Linked DNA regions of Homo sapiens: region 2 is linked to region 1. The links come from fine-mapping of genetic effects on gene expression. A gene starts in region 1. The other region holds a variant in brackets. All regions are shown on one strand. Distances are from middle to middle. Region 1 holds the start of CEP78 (centrosomal protein 78). Region 2 overlaps CEP78 (centrosomal protein 78).

Evidence for each region. PIP is the estimated chance that this variant, and not a neighbour inherited with it, causes the effect. A credible set is the group of variants that fine-mapping cannot tell apart.
Region 2: its variant is the best candidate, but not a certain one, in a credible set for the expression of CEP78 in substantia nigra (GTEx, PIP 0.65).

The regions. Positions count from the first base shown.
Region 1 is chr9:78,234,693-78,237,613 of GRCh38, reverse strand. CEP78 (centrosomal protein 78) reads right to left here and starts at 1,539. Exons shown (of 17, transcript NM_001330691.3): 1 at 1,011-1,539. The coding sequence starts at 1,263. RefSeq lists a silencer at 1,146-1,515 and an enhancer at 1,141-1,810.
Region 2 is chr9:78,257,963-78,260,883 of GRCh38, reverse strand. All of the region lies in intron 11 of CEP78 (centrosomal protein 78), which reads right to left. Among named protein-coding and RNA genes, the nearest start is that of CEP78, 23 kb to the right of the region's middle. The variant A/G (reference allele first, on the strand shown) is at 1,462.

The DNA.
Region 1 (2,921 bases):
GGTTTCCAGCCTCAACTCTCTCTGCTCTTTCTCAAACCTAAATTCCAGTCCTGTAACTCAGCTTGCATACTCTCTCCTATTTCCAAAACTTTTGCACAAACTGTTCCTTCCTGTTACCTAGCTAGCGTCTATAGGAAGCTGCCTCCATTATGTAGAAAATGCTAAGTGCTCAAAGGAATAACAGCATTTTGTCATATATCATAGTTGACCTAACATATTTTCCGAATAATCAGAGAGTCTGGATCCCTAATTATACCACTATACATTTACAAATGGCTTGTATTTGTAAAGCACTTTACAAACTTCTTATATACACCTTAAAAAATGAAGACAGGCCGGGCGCGGTGGCTCATGCCTGTAATCCCAGCACTTTGGAAGGCCGAAGCGGGCGGATCACCTGAGGTCAGGAGTTCGAGACCAGCCTGGCTAACATGGTGAAACCCCATCTCTACTAAAAATACAAAAATTAGCCGGGCATGGTGGCGCGCGCCTGTAATCCCAGCTACTCGGGAGGTTGAGGCAGGAGAATCACTTGAACCCGGGAGGCGGAGGTTGCAGTGAGCCGAGATCTTGCCACTGCATTCCAGCCTGGGCGACAGAGTGAAACAGTGTCTCAAAAAAAAAAAAAAAAAAAAAAAAAAAAAGACAAAGGCTGACATGTATTAATTTCCTACCTGCTTAGTTCTCTATCAGGCAAATCAAAGTCATTCAATAAAATAGGTAACATCTGTCAAATGTTTAATGATGTCCCAAACTGTGCTAAGAGCTCTGCAGGCATCAGCAGCGCAGGGAATCCTTGCGAAGGCGCACATAACCTGGGTCTCGTTATTAAGCCCATGTTACGGATGAGCACACTGAAGCCCTAGAGACCTTAAGCCACTCACCTAGCTCGTGAGTGTCCAGGCCGCACACCCCTTCTATTGCACACATACCCCGACAATGGACACCACTCACCTAAAAACCCACTTCGCCGCACCGACTGAGGGGCCCTGGAGGCGGGAACTACAAACCTGTGTCCCCCAGCCAGGGCTGGAAGAAGCTCTTGATGGAGACCAAGGGCAGGTCTTTATTGATCTTGAGGGTGCTCAGCAGAGGCGCCCAGTCCACCCCGCGGAGGCGGTCGGCGTTGAAATCCAGCACGCCCTCCCGGAGACAGGCGCGCACGGCGGGCAGCGGCACCGAGTTCTGCAGCGCGCACAGGTACTCGTAGTGGGAGAAGAAGTCCGCCGCGCTGTCGCGGCGCAGCTTCACGGAGTCGATCATGGCCCGAGGGCGGCCTCGGGGGATGCCCGCCGCGGAGACGCCGCCCGCGCCCACCCAAGAACGCTGAGTCGCAACCCGGCCGCTCCGGCACCCACGGCCAGGCGATAGCGGCAGCCCCGCACCGGGCTCAGGAGCGGTGATTCGGTCGGAAGACGCAAGGCCAGAGCCCCAAGCTAGGCCGGCCCCTCAACGCCCCACTCCCGCGCTGCCTCCCGCCCTGCGGCCCAAGCAGTTGGCGCCCGCCTCATAGTCCTCTGAGGCGCCGGGATTCAAGCCGGTGGGCGGTGCCGTGGAACGGTGCGCCAAGACGTCAACGTGCTCGCTGTGCGTCGGCACGCAGGTCCCGCCTCCTGAGGACGGGTGAGTTCGCTGCTACCTGAGATAGTGGTCGGGAGAGTTTGAGGGTTTGCGAAAGAGTTTACTGATCGATCCGAATAAAAGTGAAATGTGTGGTCGGGCGCGGTGGCCCACGCCTGTAATCCCAGCACTGTGTGAGGCGGGGGCGAGCGGATCACCTGGGGTCAGGAGTTCGAGACCAGCCTGGCCAACATGGCGAAACCCCGTCTCAATTAAAAATACAAACATTAGCCGGGCATGGTGGCGGGCGCCTGTAATCCCAGCTACTCGCCTGTAATCCCAGCTGAGGAAGGAAAATCGCTAGAACCCGGGAGGCGGAGGCTGCAGTGAGCCGAGATCTTGCCATTGCACTCCAGCCTGGGCGACAAGAGCGAAACTCCGTCTCAAAAAAAGAAAGAAAATAAAAAGTGAAATGTGGATGTAACAACGCACTTTTAAAAAAAGTCTAAACATCTGAGGAATGTGTCTGTGCTTGCAGTGTCCAGCCAGCACAGAGACTGCACTCAAGGGATGTGGGAACGGCTGATTGAACGTGAACTGCGGTCATTAAATCTTTTATGTCTGTGTTAATATCTACAAATAAGCCTTAATTTCTGTAGTTTCTGCATATCTCACACGGTTCCTGGCAAATTGAAGAGTGTTTCATGAATTCAGGACTTTATTGTGTTTGCTGTGAATCAGTTTGTTTTGTACTGACGATGATGTTGGCTAACTCCCTTGTAACTAGTACTTATTTGAAATAATGTCCTCGGGATTATTTTAAGCAATGTTTAAGTATGAAATCATTTCATTCTCCTAACATCTCAAGGAATATACTATTATATTCTACTTTACAAAAGGGGAAACTGAGGAACGGGGAAGTTAAGTGGAAGCTAAGTGGAAGAATCCAGATAATTGACCTCTCCTTCTATTGGTATGCAATTGCTAGAGCAATGATAGTCCTCCGGTAGAGCCTTAGACATTGTGTTTATTGCATTCCTGTTCCACCCACTGCATTCCGGATACTCCAACTTACTTCCAACACACATATGCAGGCGTCTCTAAAATTCCGGAGATATGGTCACCAATTATTTTTATGTGCGACATGCTCAAATCTTAATATAGTAAACGCTTGTATATTCATAAACCAGCTTAATAAATGAAACATTACCATTCCTGTTGAAGAGCTTTGTGTAACCACCTTCCCAATCACGACTACTCTCTGACTCTGAGATAACTGCTCTTCTGAACTTGGTATTCATCGTTGCAATGTATGTCTTTATATTTCTGCTACATATGTAAGTAAGCAGTATATAACATTC
Region 2 (2,921 bases), 23 kb before region 1:
GTCAACTGTGGGGCCTGAGCATGCCTGCATGGATTTGGGTATATGCTGGAGGATGGGGTCATGGAATAACCCGAGTATGCTGAGGGAAGACTGTATATCCAATTTTATGTTAGACATTCTTCCATTTAACACTGAATCAGAGAACTCATAACTCTGACTTTTTTTTTTTTTTTTTTTGAGATGGAGTCTCGCTCTGTCGCCTAGGCTGGAGTACAGTGGCCTGATCTCGGCTCACTGCAAGCTCCACCTCCCAGGTTCACACCATTCTCCTGCTTCAGCCTCCTGAGTAGCTGGGACTACAGGTGTCCGCCACCACGCACAGCTAATTTTTTGTATTTTTAGTAGAGACAGGGTTTCACCATGTTAGCCAGGATGGTCTCGATCTCCTGAACTCATGATCCACCTGCCTTGGCCTCCCAAAGTGCTGGGATTACAGGCGTGAGCCACCGCACCTGGCCAACTTTGACTTTTTTAGTGGGCTAAATAAAATATTCTACTGAGCCAGCTTACTGGTTCATGTAATCATTCCTTTATGGCTAACAAGACTGTTTCCAACTTTCAACATTATAAGATAAAATAACCACTTTTAAGCATGAAGGTTTTGTTCTCCCATATTTAGAATAATTTTCTTGCAATAAATAAAAAAGGAATTTTAGGTCAAAGCAAATAAACATTTTTAAGGCTCTGCAATACTTACATCCAAATTGCTTTCCAAAAGATTTCTAAGATTTTATACTGCTACTGGCAATGAAACAGTCTATCACTTGGATATATCACCTCTACTCTGTTGACTTACCTTCCCACTTAAAGTGCAAGATATTCAAGAGAAGGAAGTATATTTTATTAAGTGTTTATCCCCAGCATTTATGTGTACCACAAAGCAGACAACCAATAAATAATTGCTGAATAAAGAAAATCCCTGCCAATATAAGATTTATGTGTGTGTTAAAGACAGAATGTGTGTTTTTCTCTAATAGATAAAAGGTTACTGTCTTCCTTAAATGTGCACTGTCTTCCTTAAATGTGCATTTCTTTGCTTACTAATTAGTACTTAAATTTCTCTTTTAGGTTATTTTTTGGAAATTCAGATTCTCTGAGGCAAAGTTCTGGCCCTACCCATCAGCTGTATAACCTTGGGCAAGTTCAGTAACTCTAGGTCTTAATTTCCTCATCTATAAAATGGAGATAAATTCATGTATCATAGGGCTCTTGAAAGGAGTAAATTAACACACATATAAAACTGAGAAGAGTGCCTGGTGTACAAAATATGATCAACGCAAAATGAATAAACATACGAACAGAATTAGTAGAGAAGAGCTTAAAATGAAAGTTAATCTCCTCCTCACTCACACATCCAGCTTCCCAGAGGCAACCATTTCTTTAAGCAGGTTTTTTAAATCACAAAATATGCTATACATACTGAAAAGTGCATAAAACACACTATCAGGGAATACTCATGTA[A/G]CCATATACCCAAGTTTGCAAGTACAACTAGCTAGCATCTCTGAAATCCCCCATATCTTCTACTCATCACAAGCCCCTCTCCTTCTCCCAGAATTAAACACCGTCCTCATTTTCCTAATGATCATTTCCTTTATATGCATGCATCCCTAACAATCTAGTTTTGCCTACTTCTAACTTTATGCAAAGGGAATCATAGTGAATGCACACTTCTGCATCTTCTTTCTTTCAACATTGTTCTTACAATTCATCTGTTGTTGCCTGTAGCTCTTGTTCATTCAATTTTATTACTTTTATAGTTTTCTCAGTGTACAAATGCAATCTAATTTTTAATTCTTAATGGACATCGGGTTGTTTTCAGGTTGGACTATTACAAATAATGCACGTGGACCCTTTTGCACCTGTTTTTCTGGTGCATATACCCTCAGATGACTTGTTGGGTCCCAACGTATTTATATACTTTCCATTGATAGACAATGCTAAACGCTTTCCAAAGTAGGTGTGCTCACTTATACTTCCGGTGTAAGCAGGGTGGAAGATTCTTATTACACTCCAGATCTACAATACCTGCCACTATAAAATTTTATTTTTTGCCAATCTGATAGGAGTGTAGTTGCATCTCATACTGATTTCAGTTCATTTTTCTCTGATTACCTATATGGCTGAACACTTTTCCATACTTATGGGCTACTTGGATTTTTTTGTGTGTGAGGTTTAAGTCAACCATTCTTCTTTTTAATCCTTCTCTAGTTCTAAATAACGTATTAGGTAACTACATGACCGGATTTTAGACATTATTTACTAACTTCCTGCTTTACTAAGTAAGAGTTTGGTTCATTCTTACTTATTTACTTACTTATAGCCACTCCTCTCAATAAAGTTGTTATCACCATTAGTTTTTCCATTGGTCATGATCTCTTCAACTTCTAGTGATATACATTACTTAAAAATTTAAATTGTTTATCAACTCTAAATTCTCTCAATGCCCTGCTTTGTAAAATAGGGACATGTATACTTTTGTCCCTTCTTTCCACCTGTGTCCACCTTCCAAACTTAGCTTTTACACTGTTAAAGTTAATATTTATATTCTGTTCTATATGCAGAGCTGTTTGTTTTTTGAGAGACAGATAGATCAGTGTTTAAGAGAACAGGCAGAAAGCTTAAGCTCAAATCCCTGATCCAACTCTAAATTTAAGTACAGCTTGGGCTTACTTAAATTTAGCTTCTTTTCTGAAAAGTAGGACTAATAGTAACACCTACCACAGGTTATTCTGAGGATCAAATGAATTAATATAAGCAAAACACTTAGAACAGTGTCCAATACGTGCTAAATCTGATACAAGCTAGTTATTTTTGCTATCACATGCAAATTGATAATCAAAGCTACAGACCACGGCAGTATTTCCATTACTACGATTAAATTAATACTGCCTACTGCAGAGTTATATTGTAACTCTTGTGTA